Regions from separate parts of the Homo sapiens genome. Here all the other regions are linked to region 4. Evidence: fine-mapped expression QTL. A gene starts in region 4. Each other region holds a variant in brackets. All regions are shown on one strand. Distances are between the middles of the regions.

The links.
Region 1: its variant is fine-mapped to the expression of ADAMTS17 in caudate (GTEx, PIP above 0.99). The same link has a PIP of 0.9 or more in nucleus accumbens and putamen.
Region 2: its variant is fine-mapped to the expression of ADAMTS17 in nasal epithelium (TOPMed, PIP 0.98).
Region 3: its variant is fine-mapped to the expression of ADAMTS17 in whole blood (TOPMed, PIP above 0.99).
Region 5: its variant is fine-mapped to the expression of ADAMTS17 in aorta (GTEx, PIP above 0.99).
Region 6: its variant is fine-mapped to the expression of ADAMTS17 in whole blood (INTERVAL, PIP 0.99).
Region 7: its variant is fine-mapped to the expression of ADAMTS17 in whole blood (TOPMed, PIP above 0.99). The same link has a PIP of 0.9 or more in blood mononuclear cells and naive CD8 T cells.

The regions. Positions count from the first base shown.
Region 1 is chr15:100,123,833-100,127,897 of GRCh38, reverse strand. All of the region lies in intron 12 of ADAMTS17 (ADAM metallopeptidase with thrombospondin type 1 motif 17), which reads left to right. Among named protein-coding and RNA genes, the nearest start is that of ADAMTS17, 220 kb to the left of the region's middle. RefSeq lists an enhancer at 3,435-4,065. The variant C/G (reference allele first, on the strand shown) is at 1,821.
Region 2 is chr15:100,046,662-100,050,726 of GRCh38, reverse strand. ADAMTS17 (ADAM metallopeptidase with thrombospondin type 1 motif 17) reads left to right here. Exons shown (of 22, transcript NM_139057.4): 18 at 1,735-1,870. Among named protein-coding and RNA genes, the nearest start is that of ADAMTS17, 290 kb to the left of the region's middle. The variant C/T (reference allele first, on the strand shown) is at 1,751.
Region 3 is chr15:99,924,476-99,928,540 of GRCh38, reverse strand. No RefSeq gene overlaps it. Among named protein-coding and RNA genes, the nearest start is that of LYSMD4, 190 kb to the right of the region's middle. RefSeq lists a silencer at 102-161 and an enhancer at 1-177. The variant C/G (reference allele first, on the strand shown) is at 2,196.
Region 4 is chr15:100,339,608-100,343,672 of GRCh38, reverse strand. ADAMTS17 (ADAM metallopeptidase with thrombospondin type 1 motif 17) reads left to right here and starts at 1,698. Exons shown (of 22, transcript NM_139057.4): 1 at 1,698-1,852; 2 at 2,264-2,634. The coding sequence starts at 1,774. RefSeq lists an enhancer at 2,846-3,364.
Region 5 is chr15:100,027,743-100,031,807 of GRCh38, reverse strand. All of the region lies in intron 18 of ADAMTS17 (ADAM metallopeptidase with thrombospondin type 1 motif 17), which reads left to right. Among named protein-coding and RNA genes, the nearest start is that of LYSMD4, 300 kb to the right of the region's middle. The variant T/C (reference allele first, on the strand shown) is at 2,497.
Region 6 is chr15:100,528,018-100,532,082 of GRCh38, reverse strand. CERS3 (ceramide synthase 3) reads left to right here and starts at 3,133. Exons shown (of 12, transcript NM_001378789.1): 1 at 3,133-3,270. The variant G/A (reference allele first, on the strand shown) is at 2,038.
Region 7 is chr15:100,227,177-100,231,241 of GRCh38, reverse strand. All of the region lies in intron 7 of ADAMTS17 (ADAM metallopeptidase with thrombospondin type 1 motif 17), which reads left to right. Among named protein-coding and RNA genes, the nearest start is that of ADAMTS17, 110 kb to the left of the region's middle. The variant T/C (reference allele first, on the strand shown) is at 1,587.

The sequences.
Region 1 (4,065 bases), 220 kb after region 4:
AAAAACTTTATCAGGGGGCCGAGCCCAGTGGCTGATGCCTGTAATTCCAGCACTTTGGGATTCTGAGGCAGGTGGATCACCTGAGGTCAGGAGTTCAAGACCAGCCTGGCCAACATGGTGAAACCCTGTCTCTACTAAAAGTACGAAAATTAGCCAGGTGCGGTGGCACATGCCTGTAATCCCAGCTACTTGGGAGGCTGAGGCGGGAGAATCGCTTGTACCCGGGAGGTGCAGTTTGCAGTGAGCTGCGATCACACCACTGCACTCCAGCCTGAGTGACAGAGTGGGACTCCATCTCAAAACAAAACAAACAAACAAACAAAAAATAGAATCACATTGAAGTTTGGTAACTTGCCCAACGTCACACACGAGGCAGCGGCAGGCCACGTTTGGAGCCCAGTTCTAGAAACCAGAAGTCCAAAATCAAGGTGTCAGCACAGTGCTTCCTTCTTGAAACTCCAAAGGTGAATCCGTTTCGTGGCTCCCGGCAACCCTTGGCCTCCCCTGGCTTGGAGGTGCATCACCTCCATCTCTGCCTCTGACTTCACGTGGTCTCTTCTCTGTGTGTCCTCTCACCTTTTCTTCCCTTGGAAGAACGCTTGTCATTGGATTTAGGGCCCACCCAAATCCAGGATGGTCTCATCTCCAGATCCTTAGCTTAATTACATCTGCCAAGGCCCTTTTGCCAAATAAGGTCTCATTTGCAGGTTCCGAGTGGACTATCTTTTGAGGCCGAGGGGACCCACCGTTCAGCCCCCTGCAGCCTCGAAGCCTCCTTTGTGCTCTCGGCCACAGCATTCTAACCCCAGGACCCTCCCCAGTGCTGTCTTCCCTTTCCTTAACTTACCCTTTTCCTTTCTTTGGGTGTTAGTGTAAATGTCTTCTCAAGAGATCTCTGCCCCTGACAGCCTGCTTCAAATGGGGTGCTGCTTAAGTCTCCCTCGGCACCTCTTCCTTACGTTACACGTGTTACAACAGCTGATATTGTTGTTATGTATTTGCTCACTTGTTTTGACTGTGTCCTCCCCACTGGCCTTTGAGCTGAGAGCTCTGTGCAGGCCCGGGACAGGCCACACCTGTTTGGACACCATGCTGCCTTCCGTGCCCACAGCAGAGCGGCCACTCCATAAAATGTGCTGACTGCCTTCCTGCCTGGATGTGCACTTGCCCCAGAAAACCAATCTCTCTGCAATACCAGTGCCTCCAAAACACATCCCTAATATCATTTTTTCACTGAAACACAAAGCTGATCATAAACGATTAGGCCAAAAGTGGCAGACCACCAGGTAGACCTCATGCCCTTGTATCATCTCCCCTCACTGAGGCCCAGATGCTATAAACGGCCACATGAGGCCTATCTGTCACCTGTTGTGCCTGCCCTTCTCCAGCAAGGTGGCATCTCAGTCTGGAGTGCTCGGCATCACCTTGAGAACAAGCTTCAACACAGAACCCAGCCTTGTTTTTCCCCAGTAAGAGAAGTGATACCTTTTTGCTCCTATAATATTTACACCTTGGTAGTCTCTTCGATCTTTCGCAGTGGCACCGTAGCTCTGTTTTCTGTTGTGAATGAAAACAACATGCTCCTTTTTCCCATGTAGTTTTCTATGGAGTTTCTTGCCTCCATGGATCCAGCCCAGGTGAATGGGAAGAGGCGGGACAGGCCTTGGGTGGGTGGATTACCAGCCATCTCCGGGGCTTCCCAAAGAGACGCAGGATGTGGCGTGTTTTATGAAGTCCAGGCTGCAGCCTCCAGCCTGCTTCTGCAGGATGCCCTGATGGTAGTGATGGTTACAAAGCGCAGCTGACCAGGGCCTCAGAGC[C/G]AAGCTCTGACGAAAACAACGTCCTCTCCCCGTCTCACTCCTTAAATCACCAGGCCTGCTGCCTAGAGATTTCACAAGGTTGTCCCAAATTCACTGCTATGTAGGTCTCAGGCTTGGAACGCTCCCACGACCCCCTTCTCACCCCCTTCACTTTATATTCCTGGCTCTGCTCCCTGTCTTCTGCAGCTGGTTTATTCACTGTCCAAAAATACTGGCAAGAGAGTCCCCCCACACACAATTATTTTTTTTAGTCTTGGTCTTCACAGCTCTTGGAATTTTTATTTTTTGCTAGCTGACGTGGAGGCCTTAGGGACCATCGGTGTTTCCAAAGCGACTCCCTAGGCCCGTCCTTTCCTGCTATAATTTATGTTGCTGTTGGTGGGAGTTACGTCAGAAGACTGCAGGGTAGAAAATGCATCTCTAATTTACCTTCTGTTACCCCTCGACAGTTTGTGTGTGGGGAAGAGCTGGGGAGGGAGGGGAGAGGAAGGCTCAGATGCACTTGTATGAAAAGCCAGCTGCATCCCAGCAGGTGCAGCAGGGGCAGGAGAGTGGAGTGCAGAGCTGGGACACAGCAGGGTCATCATGAGGTGCCGCCCACATGCACCAGAAAGGGAGAGGAAGGCGGCTAGCCTGCTAAGACGGCGGGAGGACGGCTGGTGTAAGGTTATGTGCCTGTAACTGGTTTTTGCTTCCACAGTGAAACCCCATCTATGTGCTTTCCATGTGCCAGCGATCTGGCATTCATATGGATAATTTTTAAAAATTTAAGTATTCTACACTGAAGCATAAGTTACATGTGTTACTTGGACACCTTTCAGAGGAGGCCTTAAACCTGGGATGTCTGCTGCCCTGAGGGTGCGTTAGCAGCTCGCAGCACTTCTGAAACCCTATGGCTTTGCCCTGCTCTCTTCTCAGAGCTCACAGAGCCAGGGGCCGCCAGGGCAGGGACCAGAACTGCCAGGTTTGTACTGAGCGTCCTGTGTCTCTGGATGGTGAAGCTGGTCCGAACTGCTGTTGTGACTTTATCTTCTGGTCTGTCTTCATTTAATACAGCAAACCTGAAAATAAAAAGTGGCATCTTTCTCTTCCAGCCTCTCTTGATTCTACCTGTCCATCCACTCTCAAAGAAAGGGGCAGATGTTCTGCCATATGATCCTGTTGGTCTCAGCAAACCTTTGCTGCTTCTCTGCTCTGGGCTTGTGTCTATCAAGGCCCTGAGGACTCCACTTCAGCAGGAGACGGTCCTTGTTCTGCAGGCGCTTGGGAAATTTTGGGGTAGAGCTCACCTTTCTCTCCACGCTTTCGGTTTCTCACCAAAGCCTCTCTACCTTACTCTTTTGCTTATTTTTAAACAAACTTATGAAGGTAGAATATACAAAGAAGCACAGCTCCGTGCACAGTATTGCTCATCACGGTCGAGCATGTGTGTTGGGGCGCACGTGCAGGTATATGTCAGTACAGTAGGAGGGCAGTTGCTGGCCCCTGGGGCGCGCATGTGTGACCACATAACAGCTGCCAGCTTTGCAGAATGGCCGTGCCATCTCCATTGCCGTGGCTGGGGTGGCTTTCTACTTGCCCCATGTCCTCACTGACACCGGTGTTGTCAGTAATTCTCTCTGGTTTTGGCCGTTCGGATGCGTGTGTAGCAGTATCTGGCTGGGGAATTGGTACTTTCCTCATCAACAGTGAGGCCGAACTTCTGTTTCCTTATTTGCCATTTGGATATCCTTTTCTTGTGAAGTAGCCATGCAAGCCGTTTGGTTTTGTATCTAAGCTTCTATTTTATTCACGTTTAGGAGTCCTAGAACAGGCCTGGCAGAGTGGCTCATGCCTATAATCCCAGCGCTTTGGGAGGCCAAGGCGGATGGATCACCTGAGGCCAGGAGTTCATGACTAGCCTGGCCAGCATGATGAGACCCCATCTCTACTAAAAATACAAAAAAATTAGCCGGGCATGGTGGCGCACACCTGTAATCTTAGCTACTCAGGAGGCTGACCCACAAGAATCACCTGAACCCAGGAGGCAGAGGTTATAGTGAGCCGAGATCTTACCACTGCACTCCAGCCTGGATGACAGAGCAAGACTCTGTCCAAAAAAAAAAAAGTCCTAGAACAGAAAAACTAGAAACGATTGATAGTAAAAATTCAAATTAAAAAACCCATCACACCCCGATGACTGGTCAGTGAGTCAGGCTGTCCTTCAGGCCTCGTGGTGGCTGATGGGCAGCCCCTCCCAGAGGCA
Region 2 (4,065 bases), 290 kb after region 4:
AATGGAGTGGAACCCCGGGCATAGCCCCCGCCATCCCTAGTCCTGAGCACCTATTGACTGCTTGGATAACTTTTGTTAGATGTCCAATATGTAAAGCATTGCTTACCATTTAAGGGATTCATCCCATTTTTCATGGGTAGGAGTTATAGACACACAGGAGTTTCTTCCTGGGCATCTTGGCCAACCACCCTCACTGTCTGTGCTTAGCCTATTCCTGCAACAGCCCTGCGGCAGTTGGCATAGCCTCCGGATACCACCATCAGCCCTGCATCCTCCACTCTGCACCTCTCCCCGGGGGGCCTTCTCCCCCTCAGCCCTTAGCTGCCGCTTGTGCCGATGGCCTTTCAACCTCCAAATCCAGCTGACACATCTACCTCTGATTCCAGCCAGGTTTTCCTCTTGGGCAGCTTGTTACAAACTAAGCATAGCCCACATGGAATAGTCAGGCTCTCCTGGGGTCAGGGGCAGGCTGTTCTGTTGCTGTTGGCTTGGTGGCAATCCTTTTATGACACTGATGACTTCCAGCTTCCTAACACAGTGGTCAGACCTGCCACCAAAGCTGAAAGCAGTTCCGTGCTTTCTGTACTCATGCGAGGCTGCCATGTGGGGCAGCAGCAACTGGCAGTGGAGTTCAGGTCTCCATGATTTCGAGTCATCCCTACATGACAAATTGCCCAGGACACAGACCCAGCAGGGAGCCCAGGATCCAAATAGTTGTGCTTGACTCCCTATTAATCTTTTATTGTCACTCTTCCCAAATAATAATAATGACAGCAATAGAGCTAAGATGAAGTGTTAGCCACCTGCCAGGTTCTGTTCTATGGACACCATATATATTTGTTTATTTTAATCATCACTGAGGCACCCTGAGGCACAGGGAAGTTAAGCAAACCAGGCTGCTTGAGGAAACTGAGACACAGAAGTATGGTGGCCAACTGTTGACACTATGGCCACTGTGATGCTATTTGTGATACAGCCAAGACTTGAACCCAGACAGCCTGGCTCCAAGGGCCACCCTCCTAACTCCCAGTCACTCAGCCTGCCTGACAAAGGCATGGCCGTGCAGTATTTAGGGTGACAAAGGCATGGCCGTGCAGTGTTTAGGGTGCTCTGGGAACACCTATAAGAAGGGCTACATCTATTTGGGATAATGAATTAGCAAAGCTTCCCAAGAGCAGGTGGGGGCTCAGCCATAAGTACCAGCTGGCTGGCTAGACAAGTCAGAATGGCTCTGGAATGCCTGTCTAGAGGATGCAGGTCTGTGTGTCTTCCAGACCAGACTCCTCATCTCCCACTTCTCCCCAGCAAGCAGGAATTCTGTAATAGGTAGCCAGACTCTGCTGAGGGCTGATGTGCAGGTCTTTAATTGAGATCAGATCTCCATAGACTTTAAACATCAAACAAGCAGATAAAAAGATGAGCAATCTTTGGAAATCAAAGGCCCAAATCAACGAACCCCAAGCTGTCCAAGGACACCGCTGATCTGAGGTGTTGCTGCTTTCTTATCTTGTTCTAGAATCTTCCAGGGCCCCACTCTGCCTTCTGTGTCTTGTACTCTCCTCCCTACGATTATAGTTCTTCCTCTCTAAAAACCCACATGACATTTACAGCAGTCACTTTAAATGACCAAGTGACCATCAGCAGCACCCAAACATGCTTTCATGGGCATGCAAGCCCAGCCTTTCCACGTGGGTGCAGCCACAGTCTCTCAGCTCCCTGTGGTTTGGTTTCCAGGGGAGCGCAGAACCAT[C/T]GTCTCGTGTACACGGATTGTCAACAAGACCACAACTCTGGTGAACGACAGTGACTGCCCTCAAGCAAGCCGCCCAGAGCCCCAGGTCCGAAGGTGCAACTTGCACCCCTGCCAGTCACGGTAAGAAGCTGGGTTCTGTAGCTTGGACCCACCAGAGTCTGGGGCGGCAGCACCATCAGTGGTGGGGAGTGATATGCAGTTAATGCCACAGTACTGCTCTATGCTGTGTTCCGTTATTGTTGATGAGAGATTTCCGCTTGCTCAAATTACCAAATTTCCAGCTACTAAGCCAGGACTCTGATGGAAATACAACCTTCACTGGAAGGCATTGTGTAGGAGACCATTAGTAACATCTCATGGCAAAAAAAAAAAAAAAAAAAAAAAAAATGGCCATCACCACACACTTTTAACCATTGGCTTCCCCAAATTACTTTGTCTTGGTGGAGAAGGAAACAAATATTGGAGTCTGAGTGCCCAGGAGAAAGGTGCACACAGGCTAATGTTGTGGGTGACCTGTTTCAGTGGCTGAAATTCATGCCAGTGAGTGTGGATCTTGGTGTTTATTCTTCGGGATCCATCAGAACTTCTGTCCCAGCCCCAGCTTTCATGGCCGTGTTACCCTTGTGGACTCTCTTGGGTTGTCAGGAGATGAATTGTGTGAAATGCGTTCATCAGCTAAGCCTCCTCTTTTTGAGTCATTTTAGCGGGACTTTAATAATGAATCCATTACGTTGTGGCATGTCACCCTTTGGCCTTCCGTCCTGCTGTGAATTGAGGTGAATGGTTTTTGCTTTGTGGTTCTGTGTATCATTTGAGGCATATTGACCTTTTCTAACTAGGCTAGGTGTTTAGTATTTCCATTTTCTAGGTTTCTTAACTCAATTTGTGCCGCTTGCCTAGTACAAGAGCTTCACAACATATTTGGCTTTTGCACCGACCCCCTTTGTTTTGTCAAACTCTTAAAATGTGTTTGAGTGAGAAAGAGAGGAGACAGGAAGGAAAAAAAGAAGGTGAGGCTTGCTGTGATGATTTTCTGTGCTCCTTGCCAAATTAAGAATGAAATTCCACCCTAATGCTGAAGGCCTGGAGGAAGAGCTCACTGCAGGAAATCTGCTTGAGCACCTCGGTATGAGCAGCTGTACCACGAACCTATCGATCAGTCCATCAGGTCATATTCAGGGGCCACAGAATGGAGGATTTGCCACTGTAAAGACTCAGCAGTCTAACAGGCTACAGCCTCTTCTCTGGAAACTAAAGATGGCCTGGCCCTGGTGAAGTGATTAGAAAATAGGGTAAGAGACGATGGAGGAGGAGAGGTCAGCATGAGCTCAAGGGCATGATTGAGCAAAAAGGTCTTAGGGCTCCATTCGAGAAGCATGTTTTTATTGGGGAACCTGCCCCCAATAGTCACATAGGTTCTTTTCTATTTTCCCTAAGCGTCGGCTGGCTTGAGAAATAAAGGGACAGAGTACAAAAGAGAGAAATTTTAAAGCTGGGCATCCGGGGGAGACATCACATGTCAGCAGGTTCCGTGATGCCCCCAAGCCGTAAAACCAGCAAGTTTTTATTAGGGATTTTCAAAAGGGGAGGGAGTGTGTGAATAGGGTGTGGGTCACAGAGATCACGTACTTCACAAGGTAATAAGATATCACAAGGCAAATGGAGGCAGGGCGAGATCACAGGACCACAGGACCGGGGCGAAAAATTGCTAATGAAGTTTCGGGCACCATTGTCATTGATAACGTCTTATCAGGAGATAGGGTTTGAGAGCAACCAGTCTGACCAAAATTTATTAGGCGGGAATTTCCTCATCCTAATAAGCCTGGGAGCGCTATGGGAGACTGGGGCTCATTTCATGCCTACTGTCTCAACCATAGAAGACGGCCACACCCAGGGGGGCCATTTTAGAGGCCTACCCTCAGGGGCTCATTCTCTTTCTCAGGGATGTTCCTTGCTGAGAAAAAGAATTCAGTGATATTTCCTCCCGTTTGCTTTAGAAAGAAAAGAAATATGGCTCTGTTCTGCCTGGCTCACCGGCAGTCAGAGTTTAAGGTTATCTCTCTTGTTCCCTGAATGTTGCTGTTATCCTGTTCTTTTTTCAAGGTGCCCAGATTTCATATTGTTCAAACACACATGCTCTACAAACAATTTGTGCAGTTAACGCAATCATCACAGGGTCCTGAGGCGATATACAGCCTCCTCAGCTTACAAATTGACAGGATTAAGAGATTAAAGTAAAGACAGGCATAGGAAATCACAAGGGTATTGATTGGGGAAGTGATAAGTGTCCATGAAATCTTCACAATTTATGTTTA
Region 3 (4,065 bases), 420 kb after region 4:
GCGAGCAGCGCTTCGCCAGGCTCGGCCCACGGCGACGCCACAGTGCCACCTGCCGGCCGGACGCCCTCGCTCGCGCACCCCGCCCTCCTCACTCGCGCACCCCGCCCTCCTCACTCGCGCACCCCGCCCTCCTCACTCGCGCACCCCGCCCTCCTCACTCGCGCACTCCCCCGCCCTCCTCACTCGCGCACTCCCCCGCCCTCCTCACTCGCGCACTCCCCCGCCCTCCTCACTCGCGCACCCCGCCCTCCTCACTCGCGCACCCCGCCCTCCTCACTCGCGCACCCCGCCCTCCTCACTCGCGCACCCCGCCCTCCTCACTCGCGCACTCCCCCGCCCTCCTCACTCGCGCACTCCCCCGCCCTCCTCACTCGCGCACTCCCCCGCCCTCCTCACTCGCGCACTCCCCCGCCCTCCTCACTCGCGCACCCCTCCCTCCTCACTCGCGCACTCCCCCGCCCTCCTCACTCGCGCACTCCCCCGCCCTCCTCACTCGCGCACTCCCCCGCCCTCCTCACTCGCGCACTCCCCCGCCCTCCTCACTCGCGCACCCCGCCCTCCTCACTCGCGCACTCCCCCGCCCTCCTCACTCGCGCACCCCGCCCTCCTCTCTCGCGCACCCCGCCCTCCTCACTCGCGCACTCCCCCGCCCTCCTCACTCGCGCACCCCGCCCTCCTCTCTCGCGCACCCCGCCCTCCTCACTCGCGCACCCCGCCCTCCTCACTCGCGCACTCCCCCGCCCTCCTCACTCGCGCACCCCTCCCTCCTCACTCGCGCACTCCCCCGCCCTCCTCACTCGCGCACTCCCCCGCCCTCCTCACTCGCGCACTCCCCCGCCCTCCTCACTCGCGCACTCCCCCGCCCTCCTCACTCGCGCACCCCGCCCTCCTCACTCGCGCACCCCGCCCTCCTCACTCGCGCACTCCCCCGCCCTCCTCACTCGCGCACCCCGCCCTCCTCACTCGCGCACTCCCCCGCCCTCCTCACTCGCGCACCCCGCCCTCCTCTCTCGCGCACCCCGCCCTCCTCACTCGCGCACTCCCCCGCCCTCCTCACTCGCGCACCCCGCCCTCCTCTCTCGCGCACCCCGCCCTCCTCACTCGCGCACTCCCCCGCCCTCCTCACTCGCGCACTCCCCCGCCCTCCTCACTCGCGCACCCCGCCCTCCTCACTCGCGCACTCCCCCGCCCTCCTCACTCGCGCACTCCCCCGCCCTCCTCACTCGCGCACCCCGCCCTCCTCACTCGCGCACTCCCCCGCCCTCCTCACTCGCGCACTCCCCCGCCCTCCTCACTCGCGCACCCCGCCCTCCTCACTCGCGCACTCCCCCGCCCTCCTCACTCGCGCACCCCGCCCTCCTCTCTCGCGCACCCCGCCCTCCTCACTCGCGCACTCCCCCGCCCTCCTCACTCGCGCACTCCCCCGCCCTCCTCACTCGCGCACCCCTCCCTCCTCACTCGCGCACTCCCCCGCCCTCCTCACTCGCGCACTCCCCCGCCCTCCTCACTCGCGCACTCCCCCGCCCTCCTCACTCGCGCACTCCCCCGCCCTCCTCACTCGCGCACCCCGCCCTCCTCACTCGCGCACTCCCCCGCCCTCCTCACTCGCGCACCCCGCCCTCCTCTCTCGCGCACTCCCCCGCCCTCCTCACTCGCGCACCCCTCCCTCCTCACTCGCGCACTCCCCCGCCCTCCTCACTCGCGCACTCCCCCGCCCTCCTCACTCGCGCACTCCCCCGCCCTCCTCACTCGCGCACTCCCCCGCCCTCCTCACTCGCGCACTCCCCCGCCCTCCTCACTCGCGCACTCCCCCGCCCTCCTCACTCGCGCACCCCTCCCTCCTCACTCGCGCACCCCGCCCTCCTCACTCGCGCACTCCCCCGCCCTCCTCACTCGCGCACTCCCCCGCCCTCCTCACTCGCGCACCCCGCCCTCCTCACTCGCGCACCCCGCCCTCCTCACTCGCGCACCCCGCCCTCCTCACTCGCGCACCCCGCCCTCCTCACTCGCGCACTCCCCCGCCCTCCTCACTCGCGCACCCCGCCCTCCTCACTCGCGCACCCCGCCCTCCTCACTCGCGCACCCCGCCCTCCTCTCTCGCGCACCCCGCCCTCCTCACTCGCGCACCCCGCCCGGCAGTGCGGCCCGCACCCGCCCCCTCCCGAGCACCCTGGCGCGCACTTAGCCAGTACCTG[C/G]GCGTGCACCTCGGCGTTCAACGCGGCCTTTGCGGCGGCTCTCCCCTTGGACCTGAGGCTTCCCGCTTCGTTCTAGAGTGAAGGCTGGAAGAGCCCAGACAGGAAGGTGTCAGCTCTGTCCCACACCCAGGTGGCCTGTGCTGTCCCTTAAGTACAGCAGCAACAACGTCACCTGGGGAGGAAAGCTTCATGGAGCTCACCAGATTTGCAGGGGTGAAAGATGGAGGGAGGAGGGGAGTTGGATTCCTATACTAGTTTTTATCTGGATAACTTCTGAGCCAAGCACAGCTTTGTGAGCCTCTAGAGACCCCCTAACCTACTTGCATCAACTGGACATAAAGAGGGGAGCCCAATAGCAACTGCATCCATTCTAAAACCAAAAGCTACTGTTATTCGCCAGGCATGGTAGTAAGTGTCCTATGAGTGTTAATTCATCCATCAAACATTCTTTGAGCTTCCCCTCTGAGCCAGATCGTGTCTAGGTGCCTGGGATGCAGAGGTAGCGAACGTGCCCACACAGGCATACACACGCATTCCTATCCCCTCTACTTCGTCGGCGCTGTTGTTTGACATAGGAATTACTACCACCTAAAACACTATATATTTTACTTTATTTTTCTTATATTATTGTCTGCTACCACACATGTATGCCTGTGGACATCCACACCAACCCCCACACACACACAGACACATTTTTTGTGTGTTTTGTTCACTTTTGTATCCCTAGCACTTAGGAAAGTTGCCTTACACACAGTAAGTGCTCACTCTTTATCAGCTCAAGGAACTCACGATTTGGTAATCTGATGTATTCCTCAAAATTCCCTAAAACTAGGGGATTATATTGTTCATTTGACAGAAGAAAAGGCTGAGGATGGGGAGTGGCCTGCATGGACTGATTCAACTCTTAGCAGTGGAGATGGGAGGCAGACCCAGGTCTGCTGATCCTAAATCCTGTCCTCTGAGTGTCCCCCATAAGCTAATTACTGGAGAAAGCAGAAAGAAAAGAAACCACTATTATCAGCATTGCTTTTCATTTTATTAATCTGAAGAGTGAACACAGTGAAAGCAGGCAGCTACATGTTAGCTGTAGACTGTAGACCACATCTGTTCAAGAATCCCTCCGAGATCATTACATATAAAAATGGCAAATAAAATAATTTTAGCTTTATTTATTTATTTAAAGTTCTACTGAGATAGCAATAAAATAAGGAAAACAATGAGAGGGCAGAAATTCCATTGGAATCAAAATCCTGTATGAGTGAGCTGAATTTTGTCCTGAAGGCTTCTGCTGGTTTCCAGTCGCCTAGAACCACAGTTACACTGAACTATGCTGGGTACAAATGACCAAAGTAAGAGGGGAGCTGGGCTGGAGGAAGAGTTCTGACCAGAGACCCCTGCATAAAGTCAGAAATCCCAGAACTCAATACCTTCAGTGGGTGAGCACAGAAGCAAAGAAATAAAACATTCCCCTAACACATTCCTAACCATCTGTCCCTATTTGACTAGGAAGAGGGCAAGAATCTACACTTTTTGTGAAAATTGAAGCCCCCTCGCAAATAGAAAGTTTTGGGTTTGGTGTTTTTTGTTTGTTTTTTGAGATGGAGTCTCACTGTGTCACCCAGGCTGGAGTGCAGTGGCGTGATCTCGGCTCACTGCAAGCTCTGCCTCCCGGGTTCACACCATTCTCCTGCCTCAGCCTCCCGAGTAGCTGGGACTACAGACGCCCGCCACCATGCCCGGCTAATTTTTTTGTATTTTTAGTAGAGACGGGGTTTCACCATGTTAGCCAGGATGGTCTCAGTCTCCTGACCTCGTGATCTCCCCGCCTCAGCCTCCCAAAGTGCTGGGATTATAGGTGTAAGCCACCGTG
Region 4 (4,065 bases):
ACAAAATGTATATACATGAAATTTTTTGATATGGCCATACAATGAGTAATAATCCCATCAGGGTAAATGAGGTGTCCATCACCTCAATCACCAAGGTTTCTTGTGCTGCCAGAAAATGCTACTGAGCTGTCAGTCATCTGAGGTTGTTGACCTGGACAGAGGCAAGGGGGAGAAACACAGCCCCAGGCCTGGCCAAGAGCAGGACCTGTGCAGATGCCCCCAGAACTGTAGGTGCCAAGCAGTGAGGGCAGCCCCTTTTGTGGCAAGCCTCTGTGGAGGGTCACTGTTCAGCCTTGGGGTTCATTATATTTCGGGGAAGGTGGCCAGTGTTATAGATTCCTTCAGATGATATGTAATCCTGTGATGAATTTAGATTCCGAGGCTTCAAGCAGCATCCAGCGGGGAACTATAACCTTTCTGCTATGATAAAATGGAAAAGAGCAGGACAGGGAAGGGACGGGAAACCTGAGATTGGTTATGGTTACACTTAATTGTTTTTTTTGTTTTGTTTGGTTTTGTTTTGTTTTTTTGAGATGGAGTCTTGCTCTGTTGCCCAGGCTGGAGTGCAGTGGCACAATCTCGGCTCACTGCAACCTCCACCCCCCGGGTTCAAGCGATTCTTCTGCCTTAGCCTCCCGAGTAGCTGGGACTACAGGTGTGCGCCATCACGCCTGGCTAATTTTTGTATTTTTAGTAGAGACAGGGTTTCACCATATTGGCCAGGCTAGTCTGGAACCCCTGACTTCGTGACCCGCCCGCCTTGGCCTCCCAAAGTGCTGGGATTACAGGCATGAGCCTCTACAAGATGCTATTCAGCAAGCTAATGGAGTCACCTTCCCTGCAGACCTCAGTTATATTGTGGCAGGAAAGGATCAACTCATTCTGTTTCTGGGAGACTCACGTTCAAGGCTAGGCTTTGGGACTTTGTGCCTCCGTTTCCTAACCTGTAACACTGAGTCCTGCTTCCCTCGGGGCGGGGGGATCCTGCTGTTAATAAGAAGCACCAAGCCAGAAATCAGGATCACAAATTCTAGCCTCTGCTCCAACAGGAACTCTCTGGGTAACTTCAGCGTTTTTCCTTAAGCTCTCTCTCTTCCTCAGTTTTTCAGTCTGTAAGAGGGTGTGAGCATGCGTGTTGCACTGGCTCCTGTGGGATTAAAGAAGACAGGAGGTGTGAAGAGTTTGGATAAACGCCGCGGATATAGCCTTCAGGTGCTAACTCAGGTGTGCGGGAAAGTGGACTGGGAGTCTTTGCGGCCACAAACAACTAAAACCTAACTTCAGATGTAAAGATTATATGCAGTTTTGGATGAAACCGCTTGGCCGGGGCGATTTCCGCCCTACCTTCCCGGGAAACTGGGCAGCAGGCTGAGAGAGTTCCAAAATGAGGACAAGCTCTGAAGACCAGCCCCGCATCCTCCAGCTCTTCCAGGGTCCCACGGCTCCGGTCGGCTCCCGCGCGCCACCTGGTGCCGTGTCCCCGCCACTGCCCAGAAACCACGTGTAAGAAAGCGCTGACAACCTAACTACGCACTGTGGTTTCGACCCATCCCAACCAGTAGGGAAGGAGGAGGCGGGGCGGAGGAAAGCGAGGGCCCAATCCCCTCCCGCCTTCCGAGGGGAAGGCGGGGCTTGGGGTTTACCACGTTGGGTTTGTCCGCAGCGCTAATTACTTTTTCCAAAGGCTGGAGGGCTTCACTCCGGCTGGCGCCGCCGCCTAGCGCGCTCCTGCTTCGCCGCCACGGTCCGGGGGGGCTGCCGGTCCCGGGTACCATGTGTGACGGCGCCCTGCTGCCTCCGCTCGTCCTGCCCGTGCTGCTGCTGCTGGTTTGGGGACTGGACCCGGGCACAGGTAGCGCCCCCTCCCACAGCCCTCTTCACCCCGCGTCCTGCGGCTACCTTCCCTCTGCGTTCTCGCGGCGTCCTGGCGGCCCGGGGGCGGCGGCGGGACCGCTGACGGCGCCCGAGCGGAGGAGGCGCGGGCCGCGGCCGGAGTACGGGAATCGGGTGGCTCCGTGGCAGGCGCGCCGCCGCCGGGTCTCCGCTCGCCGATGCGCGGCGCCGTTCCGGGAGGTGCTCGCGCGGCTGCGCCGGAGACCCTCCCCGGGTGGCGCGGGCCAGCGTGGAGGTGCCGGGCGAGGGAAGGGAAGGCAGCGCCGGCTCCGGGTCGCGCTGTCCCCGCGCTGGCGCGGCTGGCGGCCAGCGGGAGGGCGGGCGTCCGGGCGGGCCCCGCCGCGCTGACGCGTCTCCTCTCTCCCCGCAGCTGTCGGCGACGCGGCGGCCGACGTGGAGGTGGTGCTCCCGTGGCGGGTGCGCCCCGACGACGTGCACCTGCCGCCGCTGCCCGCAGCCCCCGGGCCCCGACGGCGGCGACGCCCCCGCACGCCCCCAGCCGCCCCGCGCGCCCGGCCCGGAGAGCGCGCCCTGCTGCTGCACCTGCCGGCCTTCGGGCGCGACCTGTACCTTCAGCTGCGCCGCGACCTGCGCTTCCTGTCCCGAGGCTTCGAGGTGGAGGAGGCGGGCGCGGCCCGGCGCCGCGGCCGCCCCGCCGAGCTGTGCTTCTACTCGGGCCGTGTGCTCGGCCACCCCGGCTCCCTCGTCTCGCTCAGCGCCTGCGGCGCCGCCGGCGGCCTGGTACTGCCCGCGCCACCTCCGGGTCGGCCCGTCCGGTCTGTTGCGACGCAGAGTGGTCGCCGTGGAGGGTGGGGGTGGGGCGCCTCTGCTGGAAGTCCAGCCTCCAGGGGAACCGGAGGGAACCCCCTGCCTTTCCACCTCTCCCCATCCCCCACCCCGGCCTTCGGTACCCTCTATAGGCAAAGGGGGTGGGAGGGGCAGCATCCCAGTCCAGCGCCTCTGCAGCCCGTGGAACCCGCGCGGAGCTGGGGTTGCGTGGGGTATACGCCGCCCGCTCTAGGGAGCGCAGATCTGGCAGGGATGAAACTGTCAGGGCCCTGGACAGAGGCGCCTTGGCCCCAATGTAGAGAACACTGCATCTGCACCGCCGTGTCAAAGTGTATGTCACGGGAGTACCTGTGTACGTGTAGGTGTTATGTTCTTGGACTTGGAGGTGGGGGAGTGGGCATTCACCTCCCTTCCTTTTGAGTCTTCTCTCTGTACCTGGAACAGGAAGTTTGGAGAGGTACCCAGACAGGCCACGGCTCACCCCACTCTTCCTAGCTGAAACGTAAGAAACAGGAGAGAAAGGGTGTTTGTCTTTGCTTCCTTATACTATTAGTAGGCATTTATCTGGTGCCCACCCCCAACCAGGCCTGAGGGGTGTTTACATTGGTGATAAACCCTATTCCTGCCCCCAGGAGCTCCCTTGCTGTGGCAGTAACTTCCCTGCCCCGAAGTTCCTGGCCTGTTGCATTTGAGGCACCCGGAACAGGTGCTCCCAGGGGGAGGGGGGGTTCTTGTGTGCACTTGCCCTGCCTGCGCGCACACTTGATCATGTGGCTACACTGGCGCCCAGACGAGCACTCAGCTTCTCCATCGTGCCCCGAAAGCCGCACACATGGCCGGCAGATGGGCTGCCCCCAGCGAAGCTTGGTATGGACCCAGAGCATGAACCGCAGGGGTTCTCTGTCTTCTGTCATGACTGGCCTCTGGGGAGGCAGTTTCTGATATTAGTTTGTGTCTGTCCTTCCCAGGCACAAGAAACTGCTCCCCACACCTCCACCTTTTCTTGTGCCACCATCTAGAATTCTCCAGCCCTTACTCACAGAGTCTGTGGCGAGTCCTCGAGAATCTACGAAGCTAGAAGGCTGGGGGTGCAAGGTCTTATGTGAGACCTCTCTTTCTTCCCAGTCCTGCGGGTATCTCTGTGTGTAGTTTCCTAGATCAGTCTGGCTCTCCTTTCAGGAATTTTCTGAGTTCTGATTAGGGTATGATAGACTTTTGCTCAGCTGGGAAAAATAGGCAACTTTGGTGAAACAAGGAAAGTGATATAGACCCTTGGAGGGGGCCTGGTAGGAAGGAGCTAATGTGGACCTGGGGCGGGGAATGTGGACCTGGGGCGGGGAATGTGGACCTGGGGCGGGGAATGTGGACCTGGGGCGGGGAATG
Region 5 (4,065 bases), 310 kb after region 4:
CAGCTTAGTCTCCAGTGCCCAGCAGCGCCTAGAGCTTAGTAGGTCTTAGTAAGTCATTTGAACAGATAAATGGATTGTTTGATACTGGTGGAGGGAATGTGCCTCAGTCATCCCAGAATTGCTCATCTCTATGGTTAGCGGCATTATGTCGAAAATGAGATTTCATTCCGGTGGCATGAGCATTTACCCATTAGGGGACAGATGTCTGGTCTGGACAGATGCTCCGTTGATGAAGGGGTGGAAATCAGAGGCTGGTTTAGGACCCTGGTGTATGTTGGATTGTCTTCTAGTTAAATCATTCACCCTCTCTAGGTAGAGCCTGTGGTCGACTTTACCCATGCTGTGTCCTACCCATAGCCCACCTTGACTTCTTCCTCTAGTCCTACTCATTCCACTCTCAGCAGCAGTTTCTGCAGACATATTTTAAATCTTTCCTTTACCTGCTCATGCTTTACAGCAGCCTTTATTGAAATGGATTTGTTTAAAGTTGGAAGCAATAGCAAGATCATCATCTACTTATCATGTAGAGGCAGGAAGACATGCAATTTGTTAGGTTCGGTAGCTAGCCAGAAAAAGAATGAAATGCTCCATCCATTTCACCCAGGGGCAGCTTCACATGGTGGGCATTGAGAGACTGACCTCAGGTCCCCACCTCACCCCTAGCTGCATGCAAACCCACGGGCAAGTTACATGATCTTGCCATCTGTAAACATGGGAAATGAGAACATCTGTCATAGAAGTCTTGAGGAGATGAAGTGAAGTAATGCCTATAAATTCCTTCACCCCGAGTCAGCACTCCGTGAACGCCAGCCAAAACTATCATCACTGCTCAACTACAAAACTATATCGATGATGAACATCAGCCAGCTGTTGGACCCCAACATTTTGTGGGTTATCCATTATTTCGTAAGACACTCCTCACACATACACATGTGAGCGTGCACACACACATTTTTAATACAGTTATAACTACATAATCTAAACCCATGCTGGTATTTTCCAGATAGTAAAAGATTGCGGGCAGGTCCCAGAGTATACTAACATTCCCCTTCTTGTCAGAACAAGATCATATAATTTATACGTATTTCAGAGTAAATTGCAACAGCAGAAAAGTCTTGAGTGGTTCATTTCTAACCTCTTGAATGCTTCTGAGCTCTCTACTTGTGAACTTTAGATAGTATCATCAGCAGGATGGGGGTAAGACTAGGGAAGGAAAAAGGATCATGGGAGGGTCTCAGCATCATTCAAACCCGAAGATTGGATTTCAGGCTCAGCGCGTGACTAGAGATTTCACAGATGTGCCATGCCCAGGTGGCTCATTACAGACCACTGGAGCCCTGGTAGGGGGAGCGTGAGGAGGTTGCATTTGTGGGTGGATGTGAAAGGCTGGTTCCTGCCAGCACTTCTGTCTGCTAACCTGTATTTGGGTTTAAATACCACTGAAGGAAGGAGCCTGATGAAATTGAAGTACATAATTTCCAAAAGGAATTCCTTACGACATTAAGGGCAGAAATTAGCACTGAGGAGGTAATGAACGTGCCCTGGCCCACACCGTGCACATGGCTCAGTCGTGTTTTCCTTCCACGACTCTTAATCCGCTTCCTGGGAAGAGGATGTTCCCTGGCCAGGGGGAGAGAGCTTTACCCTGAATCATGAGAACAGGGAGGGAAAAACATTTCAGCTGCACCTGCCCAGTGAGTTGTCAGGGAGGACAAAGGGTGATCTGGGGGCCAGCACCTCTCAGAGAGCTGATCCGAAGCAAGGCTCAGGCCTCGGGTGATTATTTTCCCAATATGTCTAGTGGCTCTACTGTGCTGAAATCCCCAGGAGACTGGGTAACTGACAGAGTGCTGGGCCCCACTCCCAGAGCTTCTGATTCAGTACATCCAGAGTGAGACCTGGAAACTTACATTTCTAGCTAGGGCTCTGATAGCACTCATGATGCTGGTCCAGGGACTGCATTGAGAACCACCAGCATATAGTAACGAAGGTCCCTTGACATTTTAACTCAGAAAGCATGGTGGAAATCACCAGATTTGGTGAATTGGGTCCCATGACTTGAATCTAACAGCAGATGCAAAAATCCTTCAGTAGAGATAGAGTATGGGGCTTATCTAGGAGGGAAAGGTAGTCGGTTACCTCATCTCCTGAAGACTTCAGGGCCCAGAGCCCAGGCCACTGAGGGGAGAGAGCCACAAAGCAGAGACCTAACCAAGTGGAGACTGAAGGCAGGACTTTGCAGGAGGCTCCAGGCGTTGCATGGCAGCAGCTCTGGTGACTGGAGCTGGGGATGGAAATGAGGCAGCCGGATGCCCTAATTGACAGACAAAGCACTCCCCATTTCTCCTCTCTCTGGCATAAATGGATGAATGAAAGGACTCATCACCCTGACTTTATTTCTTACAAAGCAGGAAGGTTTGTGACAACCTGGGAAGCAACGGCCATTTTGTTTTGCAGTTTGCCACAGTCAGGAAAGGAAACCGAGCAGGGTTAAAT[T/C]TAGATCCCTATGTTTTGAGAAGATATTAATAGAATAAGTAAAGGTCAGAGTAGAGGTAGTTTTGTTCCCACAGCTACAGAAAGTCAATACAGCTCAGCACCAAGCGGAAATCTGGGAAGATTCCATTCTGACTCCATAATCACAACTGACCCAACAAGACATAAGATGGGAGACATACTCAGGACTAGGGGTTCACCCTGGTGGCTCAGGGTGAACCAGATGGAAAGACCCAAGTGCACTGAGGCATGCAGCAATGGGAGGGAGGAAACAGTTTGGAGCCTTAGCAGGCAGCTCGGGCCAGACAGCGAGATGTCCGCAAACAGCCTTGCTAAGAAAGGTTTGACAAAGATAACTTTTTGTGGTTGTTTTAAGTTAGCCCTTGAAATAAGGAAAACTGAGAAGGAGATGCCTGTTAAGGCTAAAAGTGACAAAAGGCAAAGTGCAGGTTCACTGCTGCTTTTCAAAAAGGAGAAGGAGGGTAAAGGTAGAAGGCAAAGGTAGAAGAAAGCAGGCAAAGAGCATGGCAGCTCAAGAAAACTAAGGAGGGAACCCTGAGAAGCAGAAGCAGTAGAGTGAGGACTCCAGCAGCCAGGTTCCCATCTCAGCCCCGCTGCTGCCAGCAGGGGACCTGCAGCAGGCCACTCAACCTGTCTGTACGACAGGGGACTGAGAGAGTTCCTACCTCAGAGGGCTGTCATGAGAATGATGCGAGCTAAGAGAAATAAATGGCTCAGGACAGTTCCTGGCACACAGTAAGAGCTAAATTTGTCATTTTTATGATCACTGTTATGATTTTCTAGAAGTGTCCAAAACCCCATTCCAGGACAAAATCCAATCCAAGATGCTACAGAACTTTACAGCTGTCATCTCTGAGGCTCTGCTGACTGGTTCTGAGAAATCACAGCAGACAAGAGCAGAGCCAGTGGTCTGAGGGCTGGGTCTCAATTTCCCAAACAGATAAATGGCCGGGTCCGAAGAATGCCGTTTCAGAGTGCTGTCAACCCCTGGCACAACTAGAGGATGAGGGATGATTTAGGCAGATGGTTTGCATGCATTTTTGAAAAGAAGGCTGCATGAGTGCCCCAAATGTGCGAGGGTTTAATGAGAACATTCTGCGCCTGTCTGACAGTGTTATTGGGGTGGTGGGTCAGGTCAGCAGAGCACTTAGTAAGCTTCCCATGATATTATTATGGATGAAGCAGGGACACAGATGGCAGCTGATGGCTCATCACCCAGGCACTACAGTTCCTAGAGGGTCTGTCTGTGGCTCTGCCTGTACAGCTTGTCAGCAGCCTCCTGTCATGTGACTTCTCTGGGTAGGGCTCCCCAGTGGGGACTGCCATGGGGTCAGGAGACTCCACAGAAATGTGTGGCTATCAAGTGGTAGGACTCGTCTCAGAACGGGGCACTCATTCTACTCCCCAGCCCACTCCTTCTGACTCATGAGACTCAGACTCCCAGTTCTCAGGGTCTGCATGATGTCCTCACAGATCAGACCAAGATTTTATAACTAGCTAAACTATCCTTCGAGTATCAAAGCTTTAGAAAAACAATTTTAAGTAGACAAG
Region 6 (4,065 bases), 190 kb before region 4:
GCTTACTGTGTTTTCCTCTTCTAGTTCCTAAGTGGCTCTCCAGAACCTTGACTGGGTTTGTCTCTGGTCTACACTTCTCCTATCCCTCTCCTTCCCAATTTACTAGGTGAAAGGCACCCGGTACCCGCTTTGTAATGCACCCCTACTGCTCCCGACAACACCTCTCCACTGTCATGCTTAATTGTCTACATTTCATTTGTCAGAGGTCCGACGTTCACTTTTTAAAATGCAATGAATCATTAACATGCTAATAAGTGATTTAATATCTATTAATGAGGATTCGCAATATAAAACTGATTTAATGTCTCAACTCACTGCTTCCGTTTTCTCATAAAAGGAAACAGCTAAGTACTACCTAGGAGAAATGATACCCACGTGCATGCATCTTGCTCTTTCCTTTAATGCTTCCTGGGGTTCTATCTTTTCTCTTAGCAATGCACTGATACATTTATGGTGAGGCACAAGTAAGAAAGAGAAGAAAAAAGGAATCACCTTAGGAATCCTTGAGATAACCATATTTGCTTTGTTTTCAACTCCACACACAGCCTATTTCCTGCCCTGGGTTATTTTCCTCAGAGGAGCTGTGGAGATGACTAGACTTACACATAGGTCCACAGCTCCCACAAAGTCTTCACCAGCAAACCCTCCGAGTTCCTCACTCCCACAGCTCCCACAAAGTCTTCACCAGCAAACCCTCCGAGTTCCTCACTCTCATTCCTCTAGCACAAGTTGTGCAATAGCCTCATTTTTACATCTTGCCCCTGAAGAAGGGGGAAGAATTACACCTTGACAGTGACTCAAAAAAGACAGCAGATGCTGACGGGGTTCTTTTGATTAACAGGAGTTATAGAACTATGTCTAAATAGTTCCGATTTGATTTGAACATTATATTTTATCAGCAAATAACATGTGTTTCATTGTAGAAGTAACTAAAACAAAGCATGAAAACATGTGGTTCTACAATATTGGTTTTTTTGTTTTTTGTTTTTTGTTTTTTTGAGACAGGAGTCTCACTCTGTCACCCAGGCTGGAGTGCAGTGGAGTGATCTTGGCTCATTGTAACCTCTGTCTCCTGGGTTCAAGGAATTCTCCTGCCGCAGCCTCCCGAGTAGCTGGGATTACAGGCGCCCACCACCATGCCCAGCTCATTTTTTGTATTTTTAATAGAGATAGGGTTTCACCATGTTGGCCAGGCTGGTCTCAAACTCCTGACCTCAAGGGATCCTCCCACCTCGGCCTCCCAAAGTGCTGGGATTACAGGTGTGAGCCACTGTTCCCAGCCTGGTTCCCCAATATTCTTTTGGCTTGTTTAATTCTGAGTAAGAGAGTCCAAAATAGGGTTCAGGACATTCTTTTCCCGAGATATCCCCGGAGTGAAAATGAGTGTTGGATGATCACTATTTTGGGTACTAATTGTTTGACCAGTATTGAACAGCTGAGCTCCAGGGGTAGAAAGAGATCTAAGGCTTGTCCAGTGAGGATTCCCAAAGTAGTGGGGAAGCAGATACAAAAATCAGTTAAGTTGTGATAGAGTAGTAGGTGTTGCAATAAAGGTATACCCACAGAACAGAGAGGGCCGAGGCTAGGGAAGCTTGAGCAGGATTCAGACTTTCATTAGGCACAGAGGCGAGAGAGCAGCTCATGGCAAGGGCCCAGAAGCTGCCCACTGTTGTGTCTGGAATCTAGTGGGAAAGGGCAAAAGGAAGTCCTGGAGCAGCAGGTTGCGAGCAGGCCATTGTGCCAAGGAGTCTGGTCTTGATCCTATAGGTAGAAGGTGGCTGGTAGAGTTTAATCAGCAGAAGAAAAAGAAATGAGAATGGGAATGTGAGTTAGGTGACAATTGGATGAAGATGGAAGCCTCATGTCAGGAAACCAATTCTGCAGTGGTCTCCTGGCAGAAGGTGAGGCAGACCTGAACTGAGCCTACCTCGGTTAGTGGCCAAGTCTGCTTTAAATTCATCCCTTCTGCCAGATGGTTTTAAAAATGCATGAGCCCATTACTGAAAAACAGAACGTCTTCGAAGAGAAAGGCAGACC[G/A]GGAAGCCCTGAGTGAGAAGTACCCAGTGAAAGGAAGGGCGTTTATCAATCCTCTCTCTTTGAACTAAATTCATTAGTGAAATCTGAGAAACTTTGGAGCTTTAATGAATTTGAAACTGGTGTTTCCCTTTATCTGCATCTAGTCCATTTTTAATTTGCGGTCATCTATTAGCTGATGAAAAAAGAAAAATGTCTTTCAGCAGTTGAAGACAGCTAATGAGAATCAGGCTCTCAGTGTGGGCGGTACTGCTGATGTTTGGTTTGTGAGAGATACAGGAATCAACTTGTTGAAGCTCTCTACTTGTCAGAGCACCTTTAAATAATCCAAGCCCAGAGTTGTTTCATCTTCAGGCAAGAGAAAGTGAAAATGGCTTCAAAGGTACAATATCTCAAATAAACACTATAAAATGCATCCACACTTGCCTTTGAAATTGTAGTGGTTCAAGCACACAGAGACAAGCAACAATGTTTATTTCCTGATACTAATGAGCTTGTCTGTCTTTGTCTATGATGATTGTTCTTAGAGACAAACAAATAAAAATGCGAATTATATCTGACTGTTCTAAGAAGAAAAGATTGCCAGACTATTGTATTTTTTGGCAGTTATATGCTTCAAAAAACTGATCGTTTTCTCAATTCCTAGGAAGCGGGCAGAGAAATCACATTCCTGTGGACCAATGCTCCTTAGTGGATGAGTTTTGTGGCATGGTGGTGATTTAGTTAGTAAGAAGCCCTGCCTGTTTTCTGGAGAGTACTATACTTGTCGAACCAGCTCCTAGGACAGTACAGGGTTGTGACTGGTGTTTTGGGGTTCTCTCTGCGCATAAGCCCTTTCCTTTTAATACAAACAGCAAGATCATCCTGTTCAGCAGTTGACAGATGACTGTGTGCACCAAAAGGCAACAACGATGAGGCAACTGATGCATTTGTAACTCAATGTCTCACTGAATTCCAGCTTTCTTTTCTCAAGGTGGTGAAACAGGAAGCAACATCCCATCAGGAAGAACCTGAGGGTGCCATCCAGTAGCTTCGCCTCACGTCACTGACTGCCCTCAGTCAGAAATCTTGACTCGCAACTTTGGAGGGTGGGTCTCTGAAGGAATTTCAGGTCTTACACAGAGATGAGTTGTGCTGCTCTCTGAGGAGAACGAAGCTGGTTGGAACGTTGGAAGCTGCTCTCTGACTACACTTCACAAGCAAGGGGCACCTTTTGTGGACTGACATTTCAGAAAGGTAGGCGCCATCCCATGGATGTGGTTAGTATTTGAGGACTTTCAAAACCAAGGTGGCCGTGATTCCGCGTGTGAGCTTGTGTGTGTATGTGTGCCTGGGTGCGTAACAGAGAGGGAGAGGAGATGGAGATTGGGGGAGAGGCGGACAAATGAAGAAATGTTCATTTTTGGTCTGATGTTTGGGAGAAATACAGAAAAGACAGACTTGGGGCCCTTTGCTTTGTAGAGTTTTGCTTGGAAGTGTTTAGTAGTAGAGGGTAAATTTCGAGTCCAAACTTCCACTCCTGACCTGCATTGCTCTCGGGCGAGTTTAAACTGATTCATTGAGGGTTAGGAAGAAAGGTCTGGGCAGTGAAATCACACACGGCTGAATGCTCAGCATAGCTTGGTTTATCAGGAAAGCCCTGAATCCAGGTGGAATGAAAGGGGTCAGCACAGATCTTTGCCAGGTGGCAAAGGCCATTTCAGACCATCCCAGAGTGCCTTAAGCTGAGAACAAGGTGGGACTTGCTCACCCCACAGTGGCAGGCCTTCCTAAGCTGCTTCTGTCTTGAGAGATGTAGTGCTCAATGTCATGCCAGGAGAAATTAGCTGTTCGGTTCTAAGGCTGCCAGTCTCATGCAGAAAAGTGAAACAAAATCAAACTACTTTTTCTGATCCAAGCAAATGTTTAGCAAGAATGTTCTGTTAAGCATTTTTATTTTTTTGAAACCTTTACACAAAACAAGGGAAATAAAGCTTTAGGGCTGACCAGATAATGAATTTTAATTTATTCATTAACCCACAATGTTCAAGT
Region 7 (4,065 bases), 110 kb after region 4:
TGTCTTTGACAAATGGCATGAGTTCAGAATTTGAAGCAACGTAGGCCATAACATAACACGGTCCTGAAAATAATGAGGCACACCATTGCTAGATACAAAGTACTTAAATTCCCTGATGGAAGTATTTATTTTAAAGACTGCTTTGGATTATCTTCCTCCCAGGATGTGCAGGCGCTCTCTCTGTGTTCTGATGGGGTTGCCAACTTCACAATTCCTTTTGGTGCCAACAGAGTTCTCAGCACCAGGTGGAAAGGGTGGCTGCCTTCCAAGACATACCTTGCTTTATTGCTAATCCCTCTGTCTCCTCCCCCCGTGGGCTGTTCTTGTCCCCTGGCTGCTGGGAGACAGAGTGATGGCTTCCTAATTGGGTCCCCAGGCAGTCCCAACACCTGTTTCAGGAGGTGTTTGGTATCAACAGTGGACATGTTTCCGAAGCTAGGTGTGTGTGTGTTTAAATTCATTTTTATAATTTTGTTTCTTCCAAGCATTGTCGTTACCCACTATTGGTGCCTTCATTTAAACAATAAATGCTTTCATTCAAAATGCAATACTTCCTAAGCTTTTGCTGAGTGATCAAACCCGAAAAAAGTGTTAAATGCCAGTCACTCCCATCTCAACCCAGTGGTCAGGCCTGAGATAGCTGTTATGAAGATGCCTCAGGACAATTAGACTTTTCAGGAACTTTTCGGCTATGATGCCATTGCAATTTGCAGACCATCCCAGTCTAACCCCGTTTCCTCCACCCCTTGCTCTCCTTGCACCATTGCTGGCCTCAGATCCCTCCCTGCTGTGAGGTTTGGAATTAGCTCGTGTGTCTATGGCATGGATGACTTCTCCTCCAACTCTGTACCAGCCAGCATCTGGAAAGAGTTATACACAGGAATCTGTTACTATCTAGCCTGCCCTCAGCCCTGGATGCGCATCTGATGTGGAGACCCACTGGACGCTCTGTAGAATGTGGAGTTCTCTTTGAAGGTACCACAAAGATAGGGGTCTGCAAGTGTGGCTTTCGTGCACCGCGGGTGTCATTCGTGACGTGTTTGTGCTCTTCTGCAAGCCCAAACTGCGGAGAAAGTTTAACTGAGAAAACCACTTATTCTGAGTTGTCTTCTCAGTTAATATGCCCCTGGTTATGTTTAAGTGCCCGGTGTTGGTTATGCTCGTGCAGCTTGGCCAGGAAACTTCTAGGACTTCAGCATGGGATGGGTGGTTGGCAGTGGGGGCAGAGTGAGTTGGAGCTAGTTGATGTGCTGTGGGTGCATCCTCCTTAGCTGTGAGGGAGGCCAACACAGGCAGGCTTTCCCTGCACTGATCATCTCAGGTGACTGTGTGGCAATTTCCTGCTGGTCAGGGAAGGTGCTGTGGCCTTTCATCTTGGCTCTGTGTCCACCTGCTCACTGGAGCTCCATACTTCACCACTGCAAGAGAGTTGCCCTTGCGTTCTCTGTCTACACTTCAAAGGAAGATGTTTGCATTTGGTCAGGGAGAGGGAACTTTGCAGTTAGTTCTCCTGAGGCTCTGTGGGTGTTTTGTTGTGGGAGGAGGCGTGTCAGCATCTTCAACGGATCATGTGACCTTTGAGTGGT[T/C]GCCTCTGGGACATCATATGATTCTTTGAGGTCAACAGAGGGTGGATCCTTTGGACTGCAGCCAGGAGACTGGGTCCTTTTTAGTTTAGCGGGACCAGCCTTGCTGTGGTTCTCAGTCCAGAGAGAAGACTTCCTGAATGTGAAGTGAGCATCCAGGTCAACAGGCAGAACCACTGTGCGTCATAGAACAGAAGCCACTGAAATAAGAGTGATTGTCCCATGGACCAAGACATCAGCAGAGATTTGTAAGGCAGGAATTTGCAAGGGAAGGCATCAGCAACACTCATGTTTCACGTCAGAGTTGCAGGGCAGGATATTAGATAAGAGGCCTGGGAGTCCAGTCAATGGTCACTTCTGTCAATGTGGGGAGGGGGTGGGGAGAGCTACCTAGGAGGGAGAGTGATTCATAGCCTGAAACCATCTTTGCGTCCTATTTGCAAGCTGTTGGGTTGTGCAGGACTTAAAGCTGTGCTGGCTCCTCAGCACCTGCAGTGTCAGTGGTGAGCTACTCTGTTGGGGTCTTCAGGGATACTCCATAAGAACCATCTTCCCCTCCCAGGCTTGGAACCAGTGGTAGTCACAGTGTCTGTGAGCATTACTACCAAGGAAGCTGATTGGAGAAGGGGGCCCAAATGTCACTGAATGTTTCACCTTAGAATGATCCAATTTGCTCCCTGAAATTTAACGGAAGCACTATCCAACTTCTCTTCTGCAACTGTCACAGACAGGACCGCAGGGCAATGGCCCCCTCGTAGAGGCAGGTGACACTGTGGGTGGTGAGCCCACCACAGGGCCCCATCCTCCCACAGGTAGGCAGGGAGAGCTGGGGTTGGGGGGCTAGTGAGCAGGCCAGCTCCTTCCCCCAGACCATTGGACAGACAAGTCACCTGCCCTTGCCAGGCAGAGCATTGCTGTGGCAGACCTCACTCTGCATGGAAACACGAGGGGTAGAGAATAGGAGTTCTCCAAGAGCATGCCAAGTGTGGCATTTGACGTTTCATGCCCTCACCTGCCTGTGTCTGTTCAGCGCTCTCTCGTGGTCTCTCACATGTCCACTTGGGCTGGGTCTGTGTCCTCATCCTGCCCTAAATGTACCTGCTCACTCTCACCCTCGAGTTTTCCTTTTCTCCTCGGTCCAGTCCCTCTTTCAGTTAGTTCATTAATGCACTAATTGATCAATAATGAATTCAGCAGTGTTCATGAGCCTCTGTACCTGTCAGGCTTTGCGTATGGTACCAGTATTATAGTGATGTGCAAAGCAGATGAGATTCCTGCCTTCAGAACACTTACAGTCTAATCAGAGTGACAGGCATAAAAGAACTTGTCATACAAATAGATATGATGATAAACTGGGCCAGGTTTCTTGAATGCAGAGGTCACGCGCTGGATGGTGTCAAAGTAGACTGTTCTGAGGCCTTTCGGAGATGGTAACATCAAGGCTAGGATCCGAACTGTGAGAAGGAGTCAGCCATGTAAAGATTTCGGGAAAGAGCGTGTAGGTGAGGAGATGGCCCCTTCTGAAAGCCTTGAAGCAAGAAAGAGTTTGGAGCATTTGAGGAACATGAAGGAGGCCCAGTAGTGAGAAATAAGGCAGGGCTGTATCTGCAGGGCCTTGAGGGCTCCACAAAGCGTCGTGGATTTTATCTGAGTGTCGGGATTCATCATCAAAGAGCTATGGGCAGATGACGTGGCCATGTTTACTGCAGTGGGAGCAAGGTCAGGAATGAAAGCCGTTGCTCTAAGATAACAGTGGGTTTGGAAGGTATTGCTAGTTGTGGACTTAGCAGCCATGCCCCTCTCTTATACATTGCTGGGCTGTGTGCCCACCCTCAGGTGATGAAGCCGGTCACGACAGTCCATTCCTTTTCCTGGATAATCACTTACCTGGTCTCCCTTGCAGCAGTGGCTGTGCAATCCCACGTAGCCCAGGGAAATCTAAGCAAAGGCCTGCTGGCAGCCTCAGAGAAAGGTTTTCCACCCTGGGAAGCTACTGTGTGAGGACAGTGCTTAGGGCTTCTGCAGCTGTCTTGGGACCATGAGGGAAAGGCCAGGAGGACCACAGATCTGTCCATCCAGCGATGTGCCATCACTGGGCTGCCTGATCAATCCAGGGCCGCCTGCCTCTCCAGACTTCTGTGTTGAGCAATGGTGTCTCGTCTCTGATTAAACCATTGTTTTCTATTACTTGCGGCCAAGTGTACAGTCATTTAGGGGAGATAAAGAAAAGTGGGTGGATCTGAGATCTCCATATTGACATGACTTAGTAATGAATTGGAGGTGGAATGGGGAGGATTGGAGGGGGTAGTGAGGATTTCTGATGTGGGTGGGAAAGACAGAGGATCTCAGTTTTGCTCCCAGCAGAACAGACAGTGGTTATTTGGGTTGAGGTGAACCCACTTTGATTTGGAGCTGGGCCTGAGTCAGAGGTTTGACTTTAGCCTGTGAGAAATCCAGGTGGAAGTGTTCAGGAGATGGTTGA